4 linked regions of the Homo sapiens genome follow. The protein of the gene in region 4 binds, or shares a complex with, the protein of the main gene of each other region. Each region holds a gene or a part of one and is shown on either strand. Other genes may lie near its edges.

Evidence for each region.
Region 1: LSM4 (region 4) and PRPF3 share a complex: the UniProt entries of both Homo sapiens proteins name them as parts of the precatalytic spliceosome.
Region 2: LSM4 (region 4) and PRPF31 share a complex: the UniProt entries of both Homo sapiens proteins name them as parts of the U4/U6-U5 tri-snRNP complex.
Region 3: LSM4 (region 4) and LSM3 share a complex: the UniProt entries of both Homo sapiens proteins name them as parts of the precatalytic spliceosome.

Annotation. Positions count from the first base shown.
Region 1 is NC_000001.11:150,324,521-150,331,542, reverse strand, and holds part of PRPF3 (U4/U6 small nuclear ribonucleoprotein Prp3), read right to left. Parts: intron 6,649-7,022; 5' UTR 6,601-6,648; coding exon 6,456-6,600; intron 5,793-6,455; coding exon 5,662-5,792; intron 3,987-5,661; exon of another isoform or gene 3,891-3,986; intron 3,224-3,890; coding exon 3,077-3,223; intron 1,092-3,076; exon of another isoform or gene 1,045-1,091; intron 1-1,044. UniProt on the Homo sapiens protein: Plays a role in pre-mRNA splicing as component of the U4/U6-U5 tri-snRNP complex that is involved in spliceosome assembly, and as component of the precatalytic spliceosome (spliceosome B complex).
Region 2 is NC_000019.10:54,111,014-54,118,775, reverse strand, and holds the start of PRPF31 (U4/U6 small nuclear ribonucleoprotein Prp31), read right to left. Parts: upstream 3,023-7,762; 5' UTR 2,979-3,022; intron 536-2,978; exon of another isoform or gene 506-535; 5' UTR 498-505; coding exon 321-497; intron 204-320; coding exon 143-203; intron 1-142. Other genes in the region: TFPT (TCF3 fusion partner), read left to right, coding at 3,507-3,529, 4,076-4,334. UniProt on the Homo sapiens protein: Involved in pre-mRNA splicing as component of the spliceosome. Required for the assembly of the U4/U5/U6 tri-snRNP complex, one of the building blocks of the spliceosome.
Region 3 is NC_000003.12:14,181,815-14,188,836, reverse strand, and holds part of LSM3 (U6 snRNA-associated Sm-like protein LSm3), read right to left. Parts: intron 4,901-7,022; coding exon 4,805-4,900; intron 1-4,804. UniProt on the Homo sapiens protein: Plays a role in pre-mRNA splicing as component of the U4/U6-U5 tri-snRNP complex that is involved in spliceosome assembly, and as component of the precatalytic spliceosome (spliceosome B complex).
Region 4 is NC_000019.10:18,306,069-18,313,090, reverse strand, and holds the end of LSM4 (U6 snRNA-associated Sm-like protein LSm4), read left to right. Parts: intron 1-388; coding exon 389-487; intron 488-3,229; coding exon 3,230-3,413; intron 3,414-5,535; coding exon 5,536-5,627; 3' UTR 5,628-6,855; downstream 6,856-7,022. UniProt on the Homo sapiens protein: Plays a role in pre-mRNA splicing as component of the U4/U6-U5 tri-snRNP complex that is involved in spliceosome assembly, and as component of the precatalytic spliceosome (spliceosome B complex).

The sequences.
Region 1 (7,022 bases), on a different chromosome or scaffold from region 4:
AAATACAAAAATTAGCCGGGTGTGGTGGTGGGCGCCTGTAATGCCAGCTACTCAGGAGGCTGAGGCAGGAGAAGCGCTTGAATCCAGAAGGTGGAGGTTACAGTGAGCCAAGATCATGCCACTGCACTCCAGCCTGGACAACAGGGGGAGACTCCATCTCTAAATAAGTAAAGAAAGAAAGAAAATAAAAAAATTAAAAATTACAGGGCTGGGCGTGGTGGCTCACGCCTGTAATCCCAATACTTTGGGAGGCTGAGGCAGGTGGATCACGAGGTCAGGAGATCGAGACCATCCTGGCTAACAGGGTGAAACCCCATCTCTACTAAAAATACAAAAATTAGCTGGACATGGTGATGCACGTTCTGTAATCTCAGCTACTCAGGAGGCTGAGGCAGGAGAACTGCTGGAACCCAGGAGGCGGACGTTGCAGTGAGCTGAGATCACGGCATTGCACTCCAGCCTAGGCAACAGTGCAAGAGCGAGACTCCGTCTCAAAAAATAAAATAAAATAAAATGAAAAATTACAGGCTGGGCCTGGCAGCTCACGTCTGTAATCCCAGCACTTTGGGAGGCCGAGCCGGGCGGATCACGAGGTCAGGAGTTCGAGACCAGCCTGACCAACATGGTGAAACCCCGTCTCTACTAAACATACAAAAAAATTAGCTAGGCGTGGTGGCGCGTGCCTGTAATCCCAGCTACTCAAGGGACTGAGGCAGAAGAATAGCTTGAACCCGGGAGGCGGAGGTTGCAGTGAGCCGAGATAGCGCCATTACACTCCACTCTGGGCGACAGAGTGAGACTCCGTCTCAAAAAAAAAAAAGAAAGAAACATAACAAAAGGATATGTTGTGAATACGTCCATCCCCATTCTCCATAAAAAACATCATTGGGCCTGGCACGGTGGCTCATGCCTGTAATCCCAGCACTTTGGGAGGCCGAGGCGGGTGGATCACGAGGTCAGGAGATCAAGACCATCCTGGCTAACATGGTGAAACCCCATCTCTACTAAAAATACAAAAAATTAGTCGGGCATGGTGGTACATACCTGTAGTCCCAGCTACTCAGGAGGCTGAGGCAGGAGAATGGCGTGAACCCGGGAGGCAGAGGTTGCAGTGAGCCGAGAACGCGCCACCGTACTCCAGCCTAAGTGACAGAGCAAGACTCCATCCCCCACCCCCCAAAAAAGAAAATAATTGGCTGGGCGTGGTAGCTCACGCCTGTAAGTCCAGCACTTTGGGAGGCTGAGGCAGGAGGATCATTTCAGCCCAGGAGTTCAAGACCAGCCTGGGCAACATGGTGGAACTCAATCTTTAAAAAAAATACAAAAATCAGCCAGGCATGGTGACCTGTAGTCCCAGCTACTTGGGAAGCCAAGGTGGGAGGATCACTCAAGCCCGGGAGGCAGAGGTTGCAGTAAGCCAAGATCTCGCCACTGAACTCCAGCCTGGACAAAAAAGTGAGACCTTGCCTGAAAAACAAAAACAGGCTAGGTACGGTGGCTCACGCCTATAATCCCAGCAATTTGGGAGGCCAAGGTAGGCAGATCACTTGAGGTCAGGAGTTCCAGACCAGCCTGGTCAACATGGTGAAACCCTGTCTCTACTAAAAATACAAAAATTAGCCGTGCGTGGTGGCACATGCCTATAATCCCAGCTACTTAGGAGGCTGAGGCAGGAGAATCACTTGAACCTGGGAGGCAGAGGCTGCAGTGAACCGAGATCGCACCACTGCGCTCCAGCCTGAGTGACAGAGAGAACATCTCACACACACACACAAAAAAAATCCATTTCTTTCCTTCTGTAAATATCACATATATGCAAATCCACCCACCCATATTTCTGTATATGTTCTATTACCCCCCTCAAATATTAAATGGTAAAAGAAACACTTATGTGGTATTATTTAACAATGCCAATTGAAAAAACACAAATACTTCCTGTTAAAAAAAAATAAAGTCAACTTAAAATTATTTATCAGTGGATTATATCTTCTTTGCATTATGTTTGGAGAGTCTCCTCTGTCATTAAGATGAGTTCTGATCATTTCATTTAATTTTCTCAATGACTCAACGACATAGGTAATTAGGCAAATAATGTACATAACACACTTTGCTTGCCACAGTAAATGGCAATTTCAATACCCTTACCTAGAATACTCCTGGTCAAATCAAAGAACGCTAAAACATAAAGCAGGAAATAAAATTTTCCCAAATGCTGGCCTGGCATGGTGGCTCACACCTGTAATCCCAGCCATTTGGGCGGCTGAGGTGGCAGATCACTTGAGGCCAGGAGTTCCAGAGCAGCCTGGCCAACATGACAAAATACCATCTGTACTAAAAATACAAAAATTAGCCAGGCGTAGTGGTGTTCGCATGTAGTCCCAGCTACTCCGGAGGCTTAGGCAGGAGAATCGCTTGAACCTGGGAGGTGGAGGTTGCCGTGAGCTGAGATCACGCCACTACACTCCAGCATGGGCAACAGAGTGAAACTCTATCTCAAAAAAAAAAGTTTACCCCAAATGCTAAACACTAATTCAAATCAAGATCACAATAAGGCGAGGCACGCTGGCTCACGCCTATAATCCCAGCACTCTGGGAGGCGAAGGTGGGCAGATGACCTGAGGTCAGAAGTTGAAGACCAGCCTGCCCAACATGGTGAAACCCTGTCTCTACTAAAAGAAATACAAAAAATTAGCCGGGCGCAGTGGCTCGCTCCTGTAATTCTAGCACTCTGAGAGGCCAAGGTGAGTGCATCACCTGACATCAGGAGTTCAAGACCAGCCTGGCCAACATGGTGAAACCCCATCTCTACTAAAAATACAAAAATTAGCCAGGCTTGGTGGTGGGTGCCTCTAATCCCAGCTACTCAGTAGGCTGAGACAGGAGATTTGCTTGAACCCGGGAGGCGGAGGTTGCAGTGAGCTGAGATCGCGCCACTGTATTCCAGCCTGGGTGACAAGAGCAAAACTCCACCTCAAAAAAAAAAAAAAAAAAAAAATTCCACAATAAATACAGACCCATGCACCTTTTGCTTCTTCAACTCACAAAACCACTTTGCTTCCAGTCCCTAATCACTAACCTGGAGCTTAGTCAGCATGCCAGGGCTCTCTGATGGAGGCCCAGGGATCACCTCTGGCTCTTCTTCCACCTCCTCAAAACGGGGTATTCGTCGCTTCTTTACTCCTGATGATTCTTTAGAGATCTCAGAGTCATCACCAAACACCTCCTAAGGGAACCCAAGATGAAAGAAAAGCTGTATCCCTCCCCGTGGGGAGAAGGGAAGAATTATCCTAGCCCCTACCAGCATTTTCTGGCTATTCCCAGGGGAATATGACACAACCTTGCAAATAGCCACCTGCCAGAAGCAGGGTCTACTAGACTCTCCATCTCACCCAACTTCAACATTCTCCTAATCCAGTCAAACAAATTTCATTCCCATGTTCTTATAAATGTTCCCATCTCAAGGTCTTTGCAAATGCTACTGCTCACATTTATAATGATTTCTCTCAACTTTTCCACAACCCCTGTTCCAAATCCTGCCTAAAACTCACCTCCTCCAAGAAGTTTTCCTCATTATAACCTATCCCACTCTGATTAAACTTTTGTTTCACATTCTCTTAGCGTGTAAGAGCTTGGTTCATATTAGGTTAAATTACATTGTTGATATTCTGTTTGCCAAGTGTTAAGTATTTCAATGTTAGTATAGTTTTCCCAACTAAGTCTAAGCTCTTCCAGGACAGGGGCTTTCTCTTTCTTCTTCAGTAATCCCCATTAACACTTTGTTTTCATCAAACAATGGAAACTCAAATATGATGACTAATTTGCAAGGTGAATTTAACAGGACCGAGAGTGGCCAACTGGAAGGGACAATGGGAAAAAGCAAATGTACACACCGGTGGTAGGCTTTGGGTGACATCCCCTCTTCACTAGGAGGGCTCGTGTTTTGCAAGGACATATCCTCGGCCAGGGGCGAGCGCTTCCTGGAACTCCTACAGTTCAAGAAAAAGGACTCTCCCATAATATATTGTGTGGGGTGGGGACCTGAATGGACCAAAAATGGGACCCGTATCCCAAGGCTATCTAGACACCTCCTTCAAGAAGCCATTTTTATTAATCCCACCCAATGTAGTCACTTCATTCACAGCATGCCCTCAGCACTCATACAGAAGTATGCCCTACTGGCCAGGCGCAGTGGCTCATGCCTGTAATTCCAGCACTTTGGGAGGCCGAGGCGAGCAGATCTTGAGGTCAGGAGTTCGAGACCAACCTGATCAACATGATGAAACCCCGTCTCTACTAAAAATACAAAAATTAGCCAGGCATGGTGGCATGTGCCTGTAATCCCAGCTACTCAGGAGGCTGAGGCAGGAGAATCACTTGAACCTGGGAGGTGGAAGTTGCAGTGAGTCAAGATTGCGCTACTGTACTCCAGCCTGGGCGACAGAGTGAGACTCACCCTTAGAAAAAAAAAAAGGAAAAAAAAAAAGAAGTATGCCCTATCGTGACATAATCTTCACTGTACAGATCTGTGTATACTGTGGATCAATCATTCCACCTTAAATATAACAAAATTCAACATAGGTCTGAAATTCTATAACCAACCCTAAAATTTACATGAAACTGCTACTTAGATTTTATAATACGTGAATATATATTTTGTGATACCCCTGCCTCTTCTAAATTGTAACTCCTGGGCTCAAGAGATCCTCTTGCCTCAGCTTCCCAAGTAGCTAGGATTACAGGCACATGCCACACTGCCTGACAAATTACAAATTGTTTTAAGGCAAGGACTATCTCTCCTTCTCTGACCACCCTACAATGCTCCAAACACAAAGGGCACAAATCTCTCTGCTTTTTTTTTTAGTTCCATAGCCTGGCCAGGGGACCAAGCAGACATTACTTATTCACTCTTTTCCCTCAGGAAAAGTAATGGGATAGCCAAGGTATCAGAAGAACTTTGGAAGGTTTGATAGGAGTCACAGAACTTTTTTTTTTCTCCTAAAGAGAGATACTGGGAAATGAGTAGAAAAATAGGCTACTTGATACTGCTAATACTGAAAGAGGCCAGGATCAGTCGGCAACTACAGAATAAAAAGTGTAGTAGTTAAGGGGGTACTGACAACTCCTCCAAGTGTTTCACTCATGGCAGCAGAGGACCAGCAATATGCCATAGAGCAAATGGTAAGCTCTCAAGAATATAATAAATAATAGTTATTTTTTGGTATTCTATCTACAAGTGCATTGCAGAGAAACCTCTACAAAGAGGCAACAATGAGGTGTACAGCTCAGGTACCAGTGGAGTCACATTCTAAAACAACTTATTAGGCCTCAAATAAATCAAAGATAAAATCTTAGAGCAATCAGTTTATAAGTAACAGTAAGAAGGAAAAAAAGGAAATATGGAGAAACATGAGAATCAAAACTCCTGTTATCTAAAAAAAGACAAAGCTGCCAATTATTTCTTTGGATATTTCAACCCATGAACTTAGAGGTAGTTCAGATGGTGATGACACTAATTCATCTCTCCTACTCTAATGTCTAAGTACCTCTCTTGAACATTTGCTGCTCTAAATAGAGGATATCAACGTGTGAACTGGTAAGCTCAGCAACTCTGTTACCATTCAAAACAGTCCTGAGCTCATTAGACAGTAAATTGTAACCTACCTTTAGCTCTCGTTTTCTGCTCCTGTCACTGCTAGACTTGGAATGCCTAGAGCTTCGGCCTTCCTCCACAGCCTCAAACAGTTTGTCCACAAATCGGAGAGTAGAATCATCAAGAAAAGGTTTCAGATGATCTGACAGGAAGAAAGGCGGTGGTAGGGTTGGAAAGGTAAGAGTACACAGTCTAATACTAGGCCTATAACAGGTACCAACACTGGAATTTTATTCCCAGGAGTGAAACAAATTTTAAGTTTTTTGTAGGATTCCCATCTCTCTTACACTAAATGACCTTGCCCTGTGAGGTGAAAATAGTTATAATTTTTTGGCGTGGGAAGTGGTGCAGTTAGAGCAACCTGTTTACCTTGAACATCAAGTTTGAGATGAATAACCACCCTCACCTTTCCCAAATAGCAAGTTGTAGAAGCCTACCATTAACAAAATCTACCTCCTTCAAGCTTTTTCATGTATTTCATAAAGATTTTTGTATGTTGAGATGTTCAGTCTGAATCTGAATATGCCTATCTGACTTAAGCATACTTCCTAAGTAAATCTAACTTAGGTGACTCAGTATGGTAGCCAAACGAAGATTTAAAATCTATCATAAATAACATAAAAAATAAGCAATTAAGAGAAAAAGCAAATTATTATTTAGCCTATTTTCACTATAATACAGGTGAAAATAAAATATGGCCTGCCATTTTTTTAGATGTTCCCAACAGAGAGAATTTTGAGGAAGTTCAAAGCAGTGTTTGGGGTCACCCTATATGTTAAGATAAAAGATGCAGAAAGGTACATACCGGCTGCCTTCTTCTTGTCCATGCCCTTCCCCACACAGTTCAATGCTGCTGTGACCACCGTAGGCTCTGAGAAACCCAGGACCCTCTTCACTGTCTTCTCTATCCATGGTTTCAGCTCATCCAGCTCCCTCTTTGACAGTGCCATTTTTCAGGAAAAAGAGAACAATAGCTCAAACAGGACTCAATACTACACCTAAAAAAAAAAAAGAGACAAGTTAGAGAATAAGAAAAGACTAAAGTGGGCTGGGTGCAGTGGCTCATGCCTGTAATCCCAGCACTTTGGGAGGCCAAGGTGGATGGACTGCCTGGGGTCAAGAGTTCGAGACCAGTCTGGCCAACATGGTGAAACCCTGCCTCTACTAAAAATACAAAAAAATTAGCTGGGCGTGGTGGCATGTGCCTGTAATCCCAGCTACTTGGGAGGCTGAGGCAGGGGAATAACCAGGGAGGTAGAGCTTGCAACAAGTCAAAATCGCACCACTGCACTCCAGCCTGGGCGACAAAGCAAGACTCTCTCTACAAAAAAAAAAAAGACTAAAGTGATCCAGGGAAATGGTTAGTACATCA
Region 2 (7,762 bases), about 36 Mb from region 4:
ACGGGTTGGGGTGAAACAAAAAAAAAAGAAGGCTCTGGAAAAGGCTGAGAAGGAGATATACCCAGCCACAAGCAGCCAGGGAGCCAGGGGGCCTGGCAGGAGAGACAGGAGATGGGGAGGGGCACAGAGTGGGAGGAAGCACCTTCTGAAGCTTTGGCTTGCTTGCTGATATACTCCTCAATCTTCATCATAATCTCAGCAAACTGTAGGAAAGGAGAAGACAGTCAGAATCCAGCACTCTTCAAAAAGAAGCCTGTATCACCCCCTTCTGGGAGATTCTGTCTAGAGCCCCCTGCTAGGAACACCTCTTGTCCTCTTACCATCTTACTATCCCATAGCTTGGCGATGGTCTTGACTGAATCCCCGGAAAGATCCAGCTGTGTCTCCTCCTGCACATCCTCGATCGCTGGCTCCTCTTCTTCCTCCCCATAGCTTCCTCCTTCCTCCTCTTCTGCTGCCTCTTCGAGATCAGCTAAGAGCTCATCTGCCAGAGACATCCCGAGGCCTGGGGAGGGACAGCAGCGTTCCCTAAAAACTTGCCCCGACAAAGTCCCTCCTTATTACTGAGCGATGATTCTCCCCCAGAAGACCCTGGTCCTTCTTTATCAACCCCACTAGCATGCAGGCTCCACGACAACAGGTGCTTTAGTTTGTTTTGTTCACTGGCGAGTCTCCAGCTCCGACCTGTGCAAGACGCAGCACACCCCTATGACCGCCACCTTGCTAAGACTTACTGGAACCAAGTGGTGTAGATTCCAAATGCATTTGCAAACTTTCTTATTCCTTTCTTGCCTTTAGCCTTGAAAACATACTTTGAAATTCTTTGTTTCCCTCCTTTCCCACTAGATACTGTCTTGCACTGCTGGCTTATCTATGTGCTTACTTAGAAGTTCCAGGGGCTAATCTTTATTTATTTATTTTTTAAAGATGGAGTCTGGCTCTGACACCCAGGTTGGAGTGCAGTGGCGCAGTCTTGGCTCACTTGCAACCTCCACCTCCTGGGTTCAAGCGATTCTCCTGCCTCAGCCTCCTGAGTAGCTGGGACTACAGGCACCTGCCACCATGCCCAGCTAATTTTTTTTTTTTTTTTTTGTAGAGTCAAGGTTTCACTATGTAAGCCAGGCTGGTCTTGAACTCTTGACCTCAAGTGAGCGACCCACCTTGGCCTCCCAAACTGTTGGGATTACAGGCGTAAGCCACCGCGCCTCGCCGCAGGGGCTAATCTTGAAACAAACTAGGTATGGAAACCCAGCTGCAAAACTCCAGAGATCACCTCAAGGCGATCAATCTACAACGTGGCCATTGTTGACTTGACACCAGCCCATGCTCCAGGTGGCCCGTGACTCAAGACAGCCTTCGGAGCAAGACACACATACCTTGTACCCAGCACCACTCCTGTATGCCTCCCATTCAAAGTTCCCCTTTTTAAGCCCCTCTCCCCAGCCTAAAGCTTGAAATGGTCTTCTAAAGACATTAGCTTGGCCATTTCTCATCTGCGAGCATTTGATCAGTAAAGCTGCTTTACTTTCACCACCCCCCACTTCCTCTGCCTCTGAGTAGCAGAAACTTGAGTTGGTTACATTATCGGTCTCTTCCCGCCTCCAGGTCTTTGTACAGGAGTCCCTTGTAACTAAAGTGGCCCTTTCCTTCACTTTGTTTTTTCTTTTCTTTTCTTTTTTTTGAGACCATGTCTTGCTCTGTCACCTAGGCTGCAGTGCAGTGGCGCCATCATAGCTCACGGCAGCCTCGATCACCTGGGCTCAAGCGATTCTCCCGCCTCAGCCTCCCGATAGCTGAGATGACAGGCACGCACCAGCACGCCCGGCTAATTTTTAAATTTTTCTGTAGAGACAGGGTCTCACTGTGTTGCTCAGGCTGGTCTCAAACTCCTGGGCTCAAGCGATCCTTTCGCCTGGGCCACCCAAAGTGCTGGGATTACAGGAGTGAGCCATGGCGTCTGGCTCTCCTCACTTCTTAGTAGCCCAGCATCTCCTCAGCCTTCAGCTCTCACGTTCCACCTCCCTGACCCACACGCCCCACTCTAGACTACAGGAGGTTGCTTTGTGATAACGTGTCCCGCACGCTCTGCGTGTCTACAGTAAGGCACTTCACACATTTGTGATTAATGAAGTAATTATTTGATAAAGCCTGTCTGCCAGGCATCAACCAAAGCTCTAAGAGGGTAGCGAACAATTTTTGCTCCTTCCACATCCCCAGGGCCACACCATGGTAGGCGCATATTAAGACTTTTGGGTAAACAGGCTGTAAAAGGCCGGGAGCGGTGGCTCATGCCTGTAATCCCAGCACTTTGGGAGGCCCAGGCGGGTGGATCATCTGAGGTCAGGAGTTGGAGACCAGCCTGGCCAACATAGTGAAACCCCGTCTCTACTAAAAATACAAAAAACTAGCCGGGCGTGGTGGTGCGCGCCTGTAATCCCAGCTACTCGGGAGGCTGAGGCAGGAGAATCGCTTGAATCCGGGAGGCGGAGGTTGCAGTGAACCGAGATCGCGCCACTGCACTCCAGCCTGGGCAACAAGAGCGAAACTCCGTCTCAGACAAAACAAACAAACAACTGGCCAGGCGCGGTGGATCATGCCTGTAATCACAGCACTTTGGGAGGCCGAGGCGGGCGGATCACGAGATCAGGAGTTCGAGACCAGCCTGACCAACATGGGGAAACCCCGTCTCTACTAAAAATACAAAAATTAGTCAGGGGTGGTGGCGGGCGCCTGTAATCCCAGCTACTCTGGAGGCTGAGGCAGAAGAATCGTTTGAACCCGGGAGACGGAGGTTGCAATGAGCCGAGATCGCGCCACTGCTCTCCAACCTGGGCAACAGAACGAGACTCCGTCTCAAAACAAACAAACAACAAAAAAACAAAAACCAAGCTGTAAAGACCCGCCTTTTTCCTCACACACTTCTTCTCCCAGACCCAGGAGCCCAGCCTCCCGCTCCCCGTGGTCCCCATCACACTCACCTCTCCTCTCCGCGCACCACTGTTTCTAGCGTTAGTCGCTCACCGATGACGTCTCACTCTCGCGCCGTTATAGAGGCAAAGCTACTCTCTGATTGGTCCCCGCTCGCGATGTTCCTGGCCGCATTTGAAACAACAACTTTATTAGCACCTGGCACTAGGCGGAGAGAGGCGGTAAGCCGCGAGGAGGAAAGGGACTCACGTCCCGCTGTGGACCGATCCTGCTAAGCAGAGAATCGCTGTGGCCGGACGACGGGGCGTCGAGACAAGAAGAAAGACGTTGGCAACTCAGAGGACTGGTTGCGGCGTTAGACAAGAAAGCAAGGCCTTTAAGCAGGGATTCGGGGTGGACGTGGGGGTGGGCCGAAGCGAAGCCGGAAACAGGAAACTACAACTCCCACAAGGCCTAGGGCCACGTCCCGCCGTCCTCGGCTGCTGAGCCTGATGGGACAAGTAGTTTTGCGAACGGCTTAACCTACAGATTGAAGAGGTCGGAAGCTCTGAGGCCCGGGGCTTCCGGAGGTCGCGGAGATGGAATTGGAGCAGAGAGAAGGGTATGTGGCTGAGCCCTTGTGAAAAAGTGCGAATCCCAGAAAACAGTGCAGCTGCATTGTGTGCAACCATATGAGCTTTTACGCTGAGGTCTGATGGGGGTTGTAGTTCATGCAACTGCTTTACCTTAGAACCCTTTTATGGACTGGGGTCATCCTGAGGGAGGAGAAGGTTAGGGGTTTGGACTGCTGGATCTGACAGACTAGGAGGTTGGAAGCCAGGACTCTTGCGTCTGGTTGAGGGTTGGGGCTTGGACTCCCTGGGTCCTTGGAGAGAAAAAGTCTGGAGGTCTGGACTCTTGCATCCTGGGAGGAGGGGGTCAGGGCTTGAACCCTGTGGGTGCTGCGAAGGGTGGGTTGCGGACTTGGACTTCTGGGTCTGAGGGAGGAGGGCTGGGAGCTGGATTCTACGGTCTGAGGGAGGAGGGGCTGGGGGCCTGGATTCTAGGATCTCAGGGAGGAGGGGTTGGGGTCTGGGCTCCTGGTTCAGTGGGAGAAGGGGCTGGGGGTCCAGGATCCAGGGCCCCTGAGCCTTTCCCTGCCTCTCAGGACCATGGCAGCCGTGGGCTTTGAGGAGTTCTCAGCGCCGCCAGGCTCAGAGTTGGCGTTGCCTCCCCTATTTGGTGGCCACATCCTGGAGAGCGAGCTGGAGACGGAAGTGGAGTTTGTGTCAGGTGGTCTGGGCGGCTCAGGGCTCCGGGAGCGAGATGAAGAGGAAGAGGCAGCCCGGGGTCGGCGGCGGCGCCAGCGGGAATTAAATCGCAGAAAGTACCAGGCACTAGGTCGGCGCTGCCGGGAGATCGAGCAGGTAGGTGAGTGCGGATCCCCCGGTTTTGGGGTCCCCTGGCCTAAACTACCGCCCCCCGCAATCTCTGCCTTTCCACATGCCCAGCCTTTCTTGGCTTGCTGATATATTCAGTCATTTAGCTTATATATTCAGTCATTTAGCATGCATTATGTGTCTGGCCCTGTGCCGGGCCCCTGGAAGGGCCATCTCCCGTGGAGCTTCCCTGACAACGCAGATGGGTTCTCTGATGTCTCCCGGGGGCCTCTCAATGCGTGGCACCGCTCACAGGTGAAAGCCCAAGCTCTTCACATCTCCCATACCCCTGCCAGGATTCACTCCTCTCGACTCATTCATTCCGCCTCTTGAGTGTCTCTGGACCCTTCTCCTCTCCTCCATCCCTATGGCTGCCATTGCAAACTCCAGCTGTCTGGGCTGAATGACTGCAATAGCCTCCTTGCTGAGAATAAGGATGGGCTGGGCATGGTGGCTCACGCTTGTAATCCTAGCACTGGGAGGCTGAGGCAGGCGGATCACCTGAGGTTAGGAGTTCGAGACCAGCCTGGCCAACATGGTGAAACCCCATCTCTACTAAAATACAAAAAAATTAGCCAGGTGTGGTGGTGCGCACCTGTAGTCGCAGCTACTAGGGAGGCTGAGGCATGAGAATTGCTTGAACCCGGAAGGCGGAGGTTGCAGTGAGCCAAGATCATGCTGCTGTACTCCAGCCTGGGTGACAGAGTGAGACTCCGTCTCAAAATCAATCAATCAATCAATGAGGATTAAACAGCAGGCAGGGCTCAGATCTTGGCAGGCCAGGAACACCAGGACAAGAAGTCTGGATATTTTTTTTTCCTTGAGAGTGAAGGAGCCACTGAAGGGTTTCAAATGGGGGAGGAACAGCATCAGGTCTGGATGCCTGAAACTCTGAAGACAGTTGTATTAGTCTGCTTGGACTCCCAGAACTTATCACAAATAGGGTCCCTCAAGCACAGAAATTCCTGTCTGACAGTTCTGGAGGCTAGACATCCAAGGCAAGGTGTCGACAGGGTTGTGAGAATCTTCCAGGCCTCTCCCCTGGCTTCTGGAGGTTTCTGGCAGTCATTGGCACGTACAAACATCACCCTGATCTCCGCCTTCATCTTCACATTGCTGCTCCCTGTGTGTGTGTCTGTGTCCCAATTTACCCTTTTTATAAGGACTCCAGTCATACTGGATTAGGGCCCACCCACTGGCTTCATTTGAACTTGATTACTTTTGTAACGACACTGTCTCCATATAAGGTGATCCTGAGGTACTGGGGGTTAAAGCCTCAACACCCTCTTTTGGGGGAAATAATTCAACTTTTTTTTTTTTTTTTTTTTTTTTTTTTGAGGTGGAGTCTCGCTCTTGTCTCCCAGGCTGGAGTGCAATGGCACCATCTCAGCTCACTGTAACCTCCACCTCCTGGGTTCAAGTGATTCTCCTGACTCAGCCTCCCTAGTAGCTGGGATTACAGGCGCCCGCCACCACACCCAGCTAATTTTTCTATTTTTAGTAGAGACAGGGTTTCACCATGTTGGTCAGGCTGGTCTCAAACTCCTGACCTCAGGTGATCTGCCCACCTCAGCCTCCCAAGGTGCTGGGATTACAGGCTTGAGCCACCACGCCTGGCCTTCAACTCTTTTTCTCTTTCTTGAGACAGGTTCTCACTTTGTCACCAAAGCTGGAGTGCAGTGGCGCAATCTCAGCTCATTGCAGCCTCAGTCTCCCAGGTTCAAGCAGTCCTCCTGCCTCAGCCCCCAAAATAGCTGGGACTACAGGCACACACCACCACACCTGGCTAATTTTTGTACTTTTTGTAGAGATGGGGTTTTGCCATGTTGCCCAGGCTGGTCTTGAACTCCTGACCTCAAGTGATCCACTCGCCTTGACCTCCCAAAATGCTAGGATTACAGGCATGAGCCACCACATCTGGCCTCAATTCTTAATGACAGTATTGGGGAGTTCTGTAAGGAGGAAGGCTAGAGGCCAGGGGCATATTCCAAACCCTGTTTAACAGACAGACACCAAGGCCCAAACGGACTCAACTGGAGCCTCTGCCATTAATCCACCCCCAGGAATAGATTACTACTATTTTACAAGTATAGAAAATCAAGGCTCAGAGAGGTTAAGTAATGCACCCAAGCTCAGAGCTCAGCAGTGGCAGATCTGAGATTTTTTTTTTTTTTTTGAGACAGGGTCTTTCTCTGTTGCCCAGGCTGGAGTGCAGTGGCATGACTGTGGCTCACTGCAGCCCCAACATCCTGGACTCTAGCAATCTCAGCCTCCGAAGGAGCTGGGACTACAGCCACCAAGCCCAGCTAATTTTTTTGGTTAGTTTTTGAGTGTTGGGGTCTCACTCTGTTGCCCAGGCTGGTGTCGAACTCCTGGCCTCTCAAAGTGCTGGGATTATAGGCATGAGCCACTGTGCCAAGCCAGAGCCAAAACTTGAACTCTTTTTTTTTAGATGGATTTTCGCTCTTGTTGTCCAGGCTGGAGTGCAATGCTGCAATCTCAGCTCACTGCAACCTCCGCCTCCTGGGTTCAAGCGATTCTCCTGCCTCAGCCTCCCGAGTAGCTGGGATTACAGGCATGCGCCACTACACCTGGCTAATTTTGTATTTTTAGTAGAGACAGGGTTTCACCACGTTAGGCTGGTCTCAAACTCCTGACCTCAGGTGATCCGCTCGCCTTGGCCTCTGAAAGTGCTGGGATTACAAGCGTGAGCCACCGTGCCTGGCACTTTTTTTTTTTTTTTTTCTTTTGAGACAGAGTCTTACTCTGTCACCCAGGCTGGAGGGCAGTGGTGTGATCTCGGCTCACTGCAACCTCCAGCTCCTGGGTTCAAGCGATTCTCCTGCCTCAGCCTCCTGAGAAACTGGGATTACAGGCATGCGCCACCATACCCAGCTAATTTTTGTATTTTTCTTTTTTTTTTTTTTTTTTTAGTAGAGATGAGGTCTCATCATGTTGGCCGGGCTGGTCTGCAACTCCCGACCTCAAACTCTTGAGTAGCTGAGATTACAGGCATGTGCCACAACATCCGGCCAATTTTTGTATCTTTAGTAGAGACGGGGTTTCACCATGTTGGCCAGGCTGGTCTTGAACTCCTGACCTCAAGTGATCTGCCCGCCCCGGCCTCCCAAAGTGCTGGGATTACAGGCGTGAGCCACTGTGCCCCGCCCGGAACTCAGGTCTTTCTGACCCAGGAGCAGCACCTGCTTCAGCCACTGTCTTTGGGTCCCTGTTTGGCTGAGTCACATCTCTCCCTCCATGTCTAGGCTGGAGTCCTCAGAAGCTGCGTGCAGGGCTGTCCCCTCAGCCTGGCATACTTTCCTCCTGTCACCCCTTTGTCTCCTCCTTATTCAAGTCTGGGCCCACGGGCCTTCTCTGCAGGTCGTAACTAAAGTCGCACCTCCTGCCCTAACCTC
Region 3 (7,022 bases), on a different chromosome or scaffold from region 4:
AGAACTTAAAGTATAATTAAAAAAAAAGATAAAGATAAAATTATTTACAGCAGAATAGGTTTTACTAGCAAAATATTGGAAATGGCTATCTGTCCATCAACAGGAAAACAGTTAAATTATGGTACATCTACACAGTGAAGTACCATAAAGCTAAAAACGAAAGCACAAGGAAGCTATGTATGAAAGGGAAAGAGCACTGTGATAAAAAAACAGGGGAAGGGAGAATAACTAACACTCATTAGCATATGCATAAAGACACGAGAAGATTCTCAAGAAACCAGTAATAGTGCTTATGTCTGGGGGTGGGGTGTAAAGATGATGAACAGAGGCTGGAGTGGAAGACATTTTACTGCACTGTGTTCCTTTCTGCATTTTGTAATTTTAAGACTGTGTGAGTCTAGTATCTATTCAAAAAGTTAAATTAAAATGGAAGCAATTTAAAATGAGTAAGAAAAGAAATATGTGTTAAGTACTATACGGTGATATGGACCATATGGTCTCAGCATGGACCATAAAGAGTTAGTTATGTATGAGGGAGCAGGTCTAGAGCTGCTCTAATATGAGTGCCACTAGTCACAGGTGGCTCATTAAATTAAAATTAAATAAAATTAAATGTGCAGTTCCTTAATCACACCAGCATCCATTTGAAGTGCCAAATAGCCACATGTGGCTCATAGCTCCTGTAATGACAGCATAGATAGAAATTTTCACTGCTGCAGACAGTTCTATTATTACAGTGCTAATCTACAGAAAGGTCTAGAAGAGCCATCTGATGCTGTAGAAGGCCTTCGGGCAAGCAGAGGGAGCAGAGGGCTTAGTTACAAAAGGGCACAACGTCCCCAAGAGAAACTGTCTGGTGAGCCAAACTACGAGGTGTTTGGTGAAGGAAGGTAGTACACATGATGGACAGCCGAAAAAGTAGTCTGGGTCAAATAACACAGACTGTTCACAATCTGTAAAATGGAAACTCCAATTATGGAGGACCAAGAATCAGAAGAGTAAGACTGACTGCTTTCCACCTTCCCATTTATAAGTCAGCAGCCAAATTAATTATTTAGAAGTCAATTATGTAAGTTATAGGGGGAAAAAAACCCAACAACCTGATGGTTTATGGGTCCCCCATACTGTTTTGGTGGTAAAACGTTGATGTTCATTAGTTATTTCAATAGACGAGAGAGAGAGCGAAATGTAAAATGGGCCAAGGTAAGAAACCATTTAGTCTGGTTTCCCATCTTGGAGAGGAGTAACAAGAGCGCACAGGAGAGTGAAGTAGTTGTTCTCCATGGCACTGAACCAGATGCAGACACTCTCTATAATATCACTGTCTTTGCTTTCTATGTCTATAGTTAATACACATTTACACACTAAAGTATTCTCAGTCATCCAAAGATTCAATTTTAAATGTTTTACCCAATACATCATGGCAATGTGAAAAAGAACTCATTAACTAAATAGACTTTGCTTACTGTTCTCAGCTGCAACTCTAGGCGCAAGAGAGGCCACATGCACGCAGCACGCAGCGTTCAGGAGCTAACCAGCCCCAGTAGCCTTTCAAGGCAGCAATTAATCTTAATGGAGGTCAGTAACTACTGAGACTCTGTTACAGACACCCCACCCAGAGAAATGCACATGTGCACAGACACATAGCACCTTCAAACAGTGTCAGGAGGAACCGCACTTGGAGCAGACTACTAGGGATGACACAGGTGGACCCTGCTGTTAGTTCACTGCAAACATGGAGTAAGTGGCAGTGTTCCCTTCTCTGTAATAGACACCACAGTTGAAGAGTCATTTCTGTCACAAGCAGAATTCAAGACAAGAGCATTAAAATGCTTATGAAGAGTCTACTCTCATGGTAAAATTCTTATGTTAATGATGTTACATGAATAAAGCAGAATATTAAAGCCACATATTCCATATTTTATCACATTTAAGGTATCATTTGTAAGCTTAGTTGAGCTGAAAAAGGATAAATTTTGCCAATTAAACTATGACACAATTCTTTTTTTATCACATCACCTGTAAGATGCAATCAGATTTTTAAGATGCTAAAATTTAAGAAAAAGTGCATCTTAGTACTTATGATTGTGTCCATGTTAAGAAAACAATAACCACTAAACAATAGTTAATAAATGAAATTCCTAAAGGGGAAAAAATGCAGATTTTAAAAAATGCTATTCTTTCTTGGAGAAATAAGCCAGCAAAAATACATAAATAAATAAGTAAAAATTTTAAAAAAAGAAAAAAATGCTAAATGTTTACACTCAGAAGGAGAAAGAACACTAGCAAAGGAGTCAGGTGTGGTCAGAGAGAGGAGGAAAGCCAGGATAAAGCAGAACTACAAAATCCAGTGAAGGCTAACAGTTTAACAGTGACAACGTGCCTGTCACTATCTGAAGGCTTTTCATGTAGCCCTCAATGAATCCTCCACAGTTGTATGAAGTGGGTCCTATCATTACTCCCATTTTACAGACAAGGAAACATATCCACAGACAGGTTAGGTGAGCTGGCTCAATTAAAAAGGTGGTAAGCAAGGGAGTCAAAATTTGAATCCATGTAGTCTTGTACTCTGAGCCCACATTTTAACCACTATGCCCTGGCAGGGTCAGAAACTGTCTTTCCAAATCTTAAAGACCTTTCTTTCTGCTACGGCCTGGCATAGTGGCTCCCACCTGTAATTCCAGCACTTTGGGAGGCCAGGAGTTCGAGACCAGCCTGGCCAACATGGTGAAACCTGTCTTTACTAAAAACACAAAAATTAGCTGGGCGTGGTGGCACATGCCTGTAATCCCAGCTACTTTGGAGGCTGAGGCACGAGAATTGCTTGAACCTGGGAGGCGGAGGCTGCAGTGAGCTGAGACTGACATTGCACTCCAGCCTGGGTGACACAGTCAGACTGTCTTTAAAAAAAAAAAAAGACCTTTCTGACAAGATCACTGGTGATAACTAATAAATGTGATTTTTTTTAAACACTGAAGAAATAAAATGAATCTGCATAGCCCAGTGAACTACTATTTTCTAAAGAACCAGTGCCTGATGTAACCAAATCATGCATGAGTAAGAGATCCATTTGAGGTGCAAGGCAGATTAATGAATTTTCACCTAACAAGAGTACGAAAAGTTTACTGTTACCGTTTCAGATTCCAGATGGCAAATAATCTTTGACTGACTACCACTTGTTCAGTTTGGGTGTAGTATCAAAGGTAGAACATTCACAAAACAAACTCCTTCCTTTCCAACTACCTATCTGTGTGGTCAGATTTGCTTCAATTACAACAACAACTCATGATAGATTTAACGCAGAAAAAAGATATGAGAATCTTCTAGCTGTTATCGATTAAGCGGGGCATTAAAGAGATTTGCAAAAATGTAAAACAAAGACATTCCTCATTAAAATTTTGTTTTAGAAAATAGTTATTGTTCATAAAAATGTTACTTACAGTAACACGTGATAGGTTTTTTTTTGTTTTGTTTTGTTTTGTTTTGAGACAGAGTCTTACTCTGTCCCCCAGGCTGGAGTACAGTAGCACGATCTCAGCTTACCGCAACCTCTACCTCCCAGGTTCAAGTGATTCTCCTGCCTCAGCCTCCCGAGTAGCTGGGATTGCCAGTGCCTGCCGCCACGGCCGGCTAATATTTTGTATTTTTAGTAGAGACAGGGTTTTGCCATGTTGGCCAGGGTGGTCTCGAACTCCTGACCTCAGGTGATCCACCCGCTTTGGCCTCCCAAAGTGGTGGGATTGCAGGCATGAGCCACTGCACCCAGCCTTTTTTTTTTTGAGACAGCGTTTCACTCTTGTTGACAAGGCTGGAGGGCAATGGCACAATCTCAGCTCACTGCAACCTCCGCCTCCAAGATTCAAGCAGTTCTCCTGCCTCAGCCTCCCAAGTAGCTGGGATTATAGATATATGCCACCACACCCAGCTAATTTTTTGTATTTTTAGCAGAGACAGGGCTTCACCATATTGGTCAGGCTGGTCTCGAACTCCTGACCTCAGGTGATCCACCTGCCTCAGCCTCCCAAAGTGCTAGGATTACAGGTGTGAGCCACCATGCCTGGCCAGGTTTTTTTTTTTTTTGAGACGGAGTCTCGCTCTGTCGCCCAGGCTGGAGTGCAGTGGCGGGATCTCGGCTCACTGCAAGCTCCGCCTCCCGGGTTCACGCCATTCTCCTGCCTCAGCCTCCCAAGTAGCTGGGACTACAGGCGCCCGCCACTACGCCCGGCTAATTTTTTGTATTTTTAGTAGAGACGGGGTTTCACCGTTTTTTTAGCCGGGATGGTCTCGATCTCCTGACCTCGTGATCCGCCCGCCTCGGCCTCCCAAAGTGCTGGGATTACAGGCGTGAGCCACCGCGCCCGGCCCAGGTTTTTTTAATGAATAAATATTTAAAAAATTTTTCAGTTTCAGTTTCTAATAAATTAAGTATTAATAGATCAAATCCACAGAAAACGAAAGAACACTGTCCACTATTACTGTTACACACTATTATACATAGCCACCTTGCATTGTTGTATCTCACTGAATCTGGGAACCCTATGAGGTAAGTGGTAGTATTCCTGCTCACCAATGAGAACTCAGCTAACTTAATTCCCTTGCCCAAGGTAGCCCAAGTAGGAAGTGGTCAAGCCAGTACTGGCAACAGGGTCTGTCAGATGCCAGAACCCTTGCTTTTAATTGCTATGCTCTACTGAGTCCATAAGTAGGTGTCAAAACATGACAGGCTTCCCATAAATATGGGTTAAGCTGTTCGAGAGAGAACAGCTGATATTTGCAAAGCAATGAATAGAATTGCATGACTTACTTTATATATCTCTTCATATGTTTCTTCATCAATTTCTATAGTAGTCACAGTTTCTTCCACATCTCCCAAGATCATATTTAAATGTTGATCATAAGCCTAAAGTGGGAGGGTACAGAACCAAGAAATTTAATAATCAAATTACAAAAATGATAAAGGCTTAACAATATGCAAATTGCTCAATTACAACTAGGGCATTTGATACTTACATCACAAACTTTTACATGCAAATAAAAAGTAATCCTACAGTACTAATATACTGTTTCTTCACAAGTCACTTCCAATGATTACTTAATTGACCTGATAAAAATATAAAACTGCTTATATTGCCAAAAATAAATTTACTTCAAATCACTTGAAATTATTTTTAAAGTCTCCACCCCACTTGTTATCTAAGGCAGTCACATCATTTATAATATTTAATTATGAAAAACAGCAGATTCATCTTCATCATTTATCAGTAGACATCCTTCAATTTCACCTATAACAATCTGACAAGAAAAATACAGTAAAGAAGATAAAATCCTTTGTTTACTGGTAAGATAATGCCATTGCAGTCTTCTAAAGGCACACAGTAGACCACATGTCGCAGAGAGAAAGTAAGTAGAGCAACACCCTGCCCATTTCTAACCTATCCAGAACTTAAATGTGTTTAGTACCTGTGGGCTCAATCAATAAATGTTACAGCTAAGATATTCAATCCAAGCTCCAAAGTTCATTCATTTTACTAAAAGGTGCACTTTCTGGGACCTTGTTCAGAACTCAAGTTTACTTCTAACAACGTGTTACATGGTTCACCTGCTCACATCAAAATAAAAGTCACTTGTCAGCCATGTGGGGAACTGCTAAGCAGGGCACACTAACAAGATCAAACATGTATAGCTGAGAGGCACAAAACAAACAGAAAGTTGGGGCCATTTAGGATAGAGACCATCAAGTTTACACAGGGAACTGAAGAAGCCTCCAAGAGCCACAAACTTAAGTAATTAAACTCAATTCCATTTGTATTCCCAAAGTTACCACCATTCCTTTCCTGGAGTCTCTCTTCCTTTAAGGCCAGCTGTAGATTGTCTCCCTGGGTCCCTATTTCCTTTCCAAGCCCAGAGGTTCTTTATCTTTAGGTTTTGTGGAAGGCGGAACCACAGTACTTAAGAGTGGGGCTCAGGTCAGACAACCTAGATTCAAATTCTGGCTCTCCCTTTACCGTCAAGTGACTGTACCTTTCTGAGCCTGAGCTTCCTACACTGCAAAGCAGGAATAATTAGTATGTATCATCATAGGGTTGTTATAAAGATTAAATGAGATATCACACACAAAATGCTTAGAATAATAGTACCTGGTCTATAATTAATGCTCAATAAATGTTAGCTATTTTTAATCACTTTAGGGTAGAGTAGCAATACTAAAAACAACACACTTAGGAAAGTAACAAGTCATTAAGGAGAGGCAAAACCTTCAGGGTTCTCTATGAACAAATGGGATTATTTCAAGGGACCAATTCTACAGATATTTTGCAGATATGCACAAAGAAATATGTAAAAAAATGCTTACTGCAAGTATTTACGTATTTGTAGCAAGAAATGAAAAAAAATCGATCACTATCATATACAGAATCCTAGGTAGTCATTAAAAAGAATAAACGAAAATTAAATGCACTCATGATCAATTTCCAAGAAAGATTAAGTGAAAAAAAAAAAAGGTACTGAAAAACATGTATGGCAAGATCCATGTTTTGTAGAGGTAGGGTGTACATAATGCAAGTATGTGCACATGTACATATATGAGTGTATATGTGTAAACATACAGAAAAGGTAACCCAATTTTTAAATTTTATTTTTTGTAGAGACAGGGTCTCTCTATGTTGCCCAGGCTGGCAACACAGAGAACTCCTGGCCTCAAGTGATCCTCCTGCCCCAGTCTCCCAAAGTGCTGAGATTACAGGAATGAGCCACTGCACCTGGCCAAGATAATCCCATTTTTAGTAGTGATTACCAGTAGAAGAAATGGGATTTCACTTTTTACTCTATATATTTTTGTGCTGTTTAACTTTTCCTAATAAAACACATATTTGTGTTTTAAATTTAAAAAACATTTACGAATGGAGGACAAGTAAATATTATTTACAAATAAACAGAAGGGAAAAATGAAGGGAATAAAAATGTTCTATAATAAACGTATTTCTATTAAAAGAAAAAATGTTAAAAATGTGAATACATGCCGC
Region 4 (7,022 bases):
TGCACCACCATGCCCAGCTAATTTTTATGATTTTAGTAGAGATGGGGTTTCACCATGTTGGTCAGGATGGTCTCAATCTTTTGACCTCGTGATCTGCCTGCCTCGGCCTCCCAAAGTGCTGGGATTACAGGCGTGAGCCACCGCGCCCGGCCCAGTATCATTTTTTAATTGCACAAAGGTTGGCGTCATGATAGACTGTCTAACTGCCAGCGAAGTGTCTAGCGGAGGCAGAGCCTGTCGCCTGTAAGGAAGGCCATTTAGGGGTCTGGGAACTGTGGGCTGAGGCCCGGAGGTGGTGGTCCATCTCAGGGCAGAGCTACACCTCCTGAGGGGCCCATGGCGCAGGGCTCCAGGGCTACAGCCAACCTCTAGCCTGTCTCTCTTCTAGTTGGTGGAGCTGAAAAATGGGGAGACGTACAATGGACACCTGGTGAGCTGCGACAACTGGATGAACATTAACCTGCGAGAAGTCATCTGCACGTCCAGGGTGGGTGCTGCACCCACCAACGGGGGTGGGATGCAGGGGGTGCACACTCAGCCTCCTCCCTCCCTCCCTGGGCCTCATGGGAGGAGTCAGTGGGGGAGGCCGCCTAGGACTGCTCGTCCTTCCAGGGGTCAGTCAGGAGGGACAGGGCAGGGTGAGCTAGGCCACCAAGTCTCCCAGTGTGCCCTGGACTTTGACCCTGTGGGAGACTTTCCTGCTGTGTGTCTGTTGGTGCCACCCCTGACCTGGAAGGACCTAGGACTGGGGACTCCCTGTGGCTCAGGCTGGGGCAGCCCCCTCCAGGGGAGGCCCAAGACTCCCGGACTCTGCTGCCTTTAGTCCAGCCTGGATGTTGCCTGCACTCTGCGGGCCATGGTAGTGTGGCCCTGGGATGTCCGGGATGCCCAGGTCACGGTGGGCAGGAGCAGCGCCAGGGCCCGGTGGGTCAGGAGCCACCAGCCAGAGCCCAAGACCGGAAGTGCCTGGCTAGGAGTGCTGCTGGGTCGGCCGGGGCTGGAAGATGGTTCCCCTGGTGTCACGGGCCTTCCCTGCCCCTGGGATGACCCACAGAGCACTGAGGAGGAGGCCAGGGATGGTGCTGAAGGCAGCGGCTCCCTTGGACTCCTCCCACCAACCTTCCCTGACCCCATCTGTCTTGTCTCCCTGTGGGTGACAGCCCCCCATGGTATAGGGAGGAAACTGCTGGGGAGCTTGGAGTGCCTGCCTGGGGTCACCTTGACAGGACAACAGGGCTCGAGGGGGGAGGCGCTTCTTCCTGAAGTGGCCGTATCTTGCCCTGACCGCCACCCCCACCCGGGACTGGGCCTCTCATCAGCACAGGGCTGGGCGGGGTGGGGACAGGTGGTGAGGCTGCTGTGCAGCAGCGCTAGAAGCTCTAGAAACTGCTTGCTGGGTTTCGTGCCATAGCCTGTCGGAGGGCGTCTGGGTGGGTCCAGTCTGGCTGTGTCGGATGGTGCCTTGGTGCAGAACCGCGTGCCTCCCATCTGCGGCCAGCGGGGCTCTGTCCACTTCCGGTATTGGAATCACCAGGCGTGTTGCGTGCGTGAGCATGTGCGGTCTTGTGGACACCTCCAGGTCCTAGACATGAGAAGCCTGTTGATTCAGAGGCTGCGTGGTCTCCAGGGGTTGGTTTGGCCTCTGCCTCCAGCTTCGAGTGGACGGATGGCTTTCCCTGAGCAGCCTGCCTCTGTGGCCAGGCGGTGATGCTGCCGTCACATGTGGCTGGGAGGAGAGGCGATGGGAACTCACATCGTCCCCATCTAAGTGGGGCCCTCCCTCCCTCAGAGGCAGGCCGCAGGATGCAGAGACCCCGGGCTGAGAGACCTCTGGAGCGCTGTGGGCAGGAGGCAGGGGCCTCCCTGCAGTGAGCTCAGGCCCTGCCCAGGTTCCTGCACGAGGAAGCCTCTGGGCCCTGCCTGGGAGAGCTGGGCGCCAAGTCACCTGCCCAGGCCCTGAGTCCCCACAGAACCATGGTGTGTCCGCCCCACGAGCCCTCGAGGGGTTCCTGGGAGAGTGAGCACCCAAAGGGGCTGTTCCTCCCCGCCCAGCGCTAGGCCAGGCCACACCTACCCAGGTGTGGAGGAGAGTGTCTGACAGGAGGACTTGGGGATTCGGGCAGGTAAGGCCTTTTGGGGTCAAAGTTAGCCAGATGAGAAGTGGGAAAACCACGTGCAAAGTTCTGGGGGCAAGCCCATGGCGTGTGTTCCGGAAACAGAAAGTTCCATCTGGAGGGAGTGTCGTCGGGCTGGGAGAGGACCGCCAGGGCGGGGCAGGATCTCGGGCCCTAGAGAGCCCTGCTGAGGTTCTTAGACCTTGCCCCCAGGCTGGAGGGGGCCCTGGGTGGGTTCCAAGCTGGAACATACTGTGATCTGACTTTAAAGGGCATCGGGGGCAAAGGCCATCCAGGCGTCGTGCGTGGGTCTGTCCAGGAACCTGGGCGGTGGGGCGGGGCTGGGAAACTGATATGGTAGGAATGGCCCTGGCCCCTGCTAATCCCTCGATCTGTCCCAGTGGGGGCCTCGGAGGCATTGCAGCATGAGTCTGTGTCTTTGCAAGGCCCCCATTTCTCCAGTCTTGGTTAGCTCTCCTAAAACTGGCATCGCTGGGAGCCGCCCTTGAGCCACCCTGGCAGGACCCAAGTCCCCCCATTTCCCGCCCCTCTTCACCCACCACACTAGGCCTGTAGCTTGCTCGCATGTCCCTGCACCCAGCGCAGGCCCTGTCAGGAGATACTTAGATGAATGAATGAGTCAGGGCATGTAGAGAGGCTTCCAGAAGTGAGGTGGGGCTGGGGCAGGAGGAGGAGTAGCTGGGCTTCGGCTGTGTCTGGTGCACAGGGAGGCCCCCACCCGCTCTGGGCTTTGGGCTGCAGGTGAAGAACCCCAACCAGAGAGAGCCCCATCCCAGGCTGGAGGGAGCCCCAGTCAGCCACTCCTGAGCCAGGCCCACGGGCAGAGGATAGGAGCCAGTCTTCCTTGTGAGTGCACAATGGGGGCTGCGCCTACCACACCCACCCTTGCTCCTGGGTGAAGGATTGCCTGGGGTCAGGACAGATCCTGCCTGCAGGGTGGACCCTTTGCCACGTATGTCCCGGGACTGATACTGTGCAGCTTGCAGGGGTGGTACGGGGTGCAGGCTGGGCAGGATCTGCAGGGCCTCCCGCGCTCCCAGGGCTGGGCCAGACGGCCCGGTGGTAAGTTAATAACCTGCTCCCCTTCTCCGCAGGACGGGGACAAGTTCTGGCGGATGCCCGAGTGCTACATCCGCGGCAGCACCATCAAGTACCTGCGCATCCCCGACGAGATCATCGACATGGTCAAGGAGGAGGTGGTGGCCAAGGGCCGCGGCCGCGGAGGCCTGCAGCAGCAGAAGCAGCAGAAAGGCCGCGGCATGGGCGGCGCTGGCCGAGGTGGGTCTCCCCTCTCCAGTGGACGTACCTGGGGCGGGAAGACAGCCACACGTGGCATCCCTCCTTCTTGGGGTTGCCCTTGCAGCGCTGCCTCGGAGCCTCCCAACCCTCCCGGGCCCCCCTCCTGGTCCTTGGCCATGAGCCGAGGCCCAGGCAGAGGAGCCCCGAGACCTGGGACTCAGCCCTCCTCTCACTGCGCCTCCTGGCGGTCCTCAGGGCACATCAAGTCACCTCCCCAAGCCTCAGTTTCCCCTCTGAGAGGGTATGGTGGTGCCCATCTGTCCAGGCCGCTGGCAACTCCACTTGGAACCTGGCGTGGCTCTATCCAGAGCCAAGGTCGCCCGCCCCCACCGGAGATGATGAATTGGCATAAAATTCCATTTGTTAGGCCCAGGGGCCATCTGTAGCCCCTGCCCTTCCTCACCTCTCTGTCCCCAGCTCTGTGTTCTCGGGGGGACCTGGGCTTTGCTTCTGCCATCCATGGGCACTGCCTGTGTGCTGGGCTCAGGTGCCAGCCTGGGGGCTTGCAGCACGGCATGGCTGCCCCCGGAAGGCCCCAGGCGCCAATTCTGTGCAGGCTCACGAGGTGGTCAGGAGTGAGCCCGAGGGAGGGGCAGGGATAGTACTCCAGGCAGGGAGCTTTGGGGATCTCAGGGTGGGTGGGGCCTCTGGGGTCCCCGGCCTGGCTCCTTCCCAGTAGTTGGGGTCAAGGTTGTTGAGAGAGTGGGTCGGGTCCTACCTAGGGAAGTGGGGGGTTTTCTCTGGCTGCTCTGCAGGAAGCCACTGGGCCATGGAGTGCAGATAGCAGCCTCGCAGTAACCCCCACCAGGCTGTGCACCCTAGCACAGCTGGTCCTGCCTGGTGAGAGGGGAGGTTGGTGGCCCAGGCCAGCGTTGGCCTCTGGCCTCTGTCCCCACAGGGCCTGGTGGCCCCTGGCTGGTGAGAGCCCTGACCTCTTAGATCCTCTGAATCTGGACCCCTGACCCCACCTTCACGGGGTTGAGGTCTGCAGAGTAGACCGTGATTCCAGTTCCTGTTGGGGTCAGTCCTCCTGTCCCCAGACCTCCCTGGCCCACGACTGAGCCTCCCAGCGGGCTCTGTGGAGGGCCTGAGCTATGCTGCCTGCAGCGCTGGCCTCTGGCCCCTGGCACCCAGCACATGGGCCACAGGGCCAGCTCCTCTTGCTGGCCTTGGCTCTCCTGCTGTTTGAAGCTCCAGCTTTGATTTCCTCAAGCGTTCGTCCAGCTAGAAAGTTCTCTGAAACGGCTCCCTAAACGGGGCTTACAGAGCTGGGGTCCCCAAGGGAGACAGAGAGGGAGGGATCAATGTTGGGTCCCGGCCTGACCAACCTGCTGCGTCCAGGCCTGGCCTGTGGTGAGGGTGGCGTGAAGGGGCGCCAGGCACACAGAGGGTGTGGGGACAGGCGTGCCCTGCGTGCAGCCTGCTCAGGATTACTGGAGGTGCCGCTGTAGCGTCCACTCAGTCCCTGGGGCCCTCATCTCCCGGGAACCCCCTGTCACCTCCCCAGTGGCCACATGCTCCCACCTCAGGGGCTTCATGGAAAATGTCATTTGTCCTCATGGTCTATCTCTGGCCTCAGGCCTGCTGGGGAGTCCCCTCCCCTTCCCCATCCCTGGGGCTGGATACACAGAAATCCCTCTTTCTGTTTTCCTCCTGGCAGGTAGATGAGGGGCTGTGGGTGGTTGTGGCGCATAGGAGGCCCCCCCCCCGCCAGGGAGCCCCCAGCCTGGCCTACTGCCCTGGTCTCTGCTCCACGCCTCTCCTACCTCCTCCTCCTCCTCCAGGAAACCCTTCTGGCTTTGTCCTTTAGGAAGCCTGCCCCAACCCCCAATGTGACTTAGTGTCCTCTGTCGCCTAGTCCCCCCCCCCCGCATCCCTGGGGGCTGGGTCTAGTCCCATAATGAGGATGCCCTGGAGTTCCTGCCTTCCTCAGATGCTCTGCCCCACGGAGGAGATCCAAGCACCCTCAGTCACCACCTCACACATGAGGAAGCTGAGGCTGGAGACTTAGGTGACCTGGCCTAGAGTTTCAGGGCGCCGGGATCCTGTCGAAGGTCCCACCCACCTGGCTCTGCTGCAGCGCCCTCTCTCTGTCCTCTAGGTGTGTTTGGTGGCCGGGGCCGAGGTGGGATCCCGGGCACAGGCAGAGGCCAGCCAGAGAAGAAGCCTGGCAGACAGGCGGGCAAACAGTGAGCGCCCACCCAGACCGGCTGCTGCGCCCCCTCCTGCCAGGGTGGCGATTCCGCTCCACAGTCTCGGACGGATCTGCTCAGAAAGGAAGAGGCAGGCGCCAGGGGGAACCCCCTTCGTGTTTTGTGACCCTCCCTTTTAGGTGAAGCCCCTTTTTCTTGCTAAAACCGGCAATTCTCCGGTTAGAAATGTTACTTGGTGTTTTTTGGTTTTGTGAAACGGCCGTCCCAAAACTGGCTGGATTCCTAGAAGAGTCTGTGTTGAAGGCATCTTTCAAGCCCTCGCTCTGGTTCTCAGGGCAGCATTTTCCAGGCGGGTTTGTTTTGCATTTCTTGGAGCCTCTCCGAGCAGCAACCAGACGGGAGATTTTTATTTTAAGCTGTTCATGCTGGGACTGACAGCCTGCAGGGTTTCCTTGGGCGCGGCCCCAAAATTGCCTTCAAAACAAACCCGGGACGGTTGAAAGCCTTCGAACCGTGCAGGGGATGCCTCGGGCCCTGGCCCTTCGCTTCCTCTCTTGTGTTATGGAAATAAAAACAAATAAAACTACACACTGCACATCCACTGTTCCTTTTGAGCTTCTGGGTGCACCTAGCGGGTCTCCTGCCCTCTGTCCATCGCTGGACTCTCAGGAAATCCCCGTTCCCGTAAGGGAAGCTTCCTTTTGAGAGTTCTCACCAGGTGTCAGCGGCACAGTGAGGCACTGATGTCCTTTTACAAAAGGCAAGACCAGCATCTGGACAGTGGGGGCTCTTGAGAGTCCCCGGCGCCCCCCACACCAGGTTGTCCTATAACCCTCTCCCCTCTGTGGAGACGTTAATGCCAAGGGGTGTGTGGGGAGGGAAGTCCCAGGCAGGGGCCACGCATGGTCCCCATCACCCCCTCCTGGGTGGCCTGGACTCCATCATCTATCCTCATCTGTCCACACTGGCGTTCACACAGAGAAGACAGGACAGGAATCCCCTCGGAAGATGCTCATGGAAGATTCTCACGAGGCTCCTGCCCCCTTTCTGAGCCAGGCCGGGTTTGCCACTCCTCGGGCGCGCACCTGAGACACTGAGTCAGCGCTTTCGAGAAAGGCTCCGGGTAGCATCTGTGGACCGTGAAGAAACCAGAGGGAAGCCCTGAGCCAGGCAGCGGCCCGTCCCCCTGCATAGCCTTCTCTTCAGGGTCCTCGTTCGGAGACCTATTTTGAGAGGTGATTGGAATAAAAGGTCCCGTCCGTGAGGAACTCTTTTTCTTGAGTCTTCAGAGTTACTTGCCATCGTATAGATTTTGCATTTACAATGTCCTCGCCTGGGATGTTCTCCTTGTGTGTGGGGTGGGGGACAGGGATGGATATCTGCAGTCGCCTGAATCCTCTCCGCCACAGCGGCACTTGATTGATGGTTAGAGATG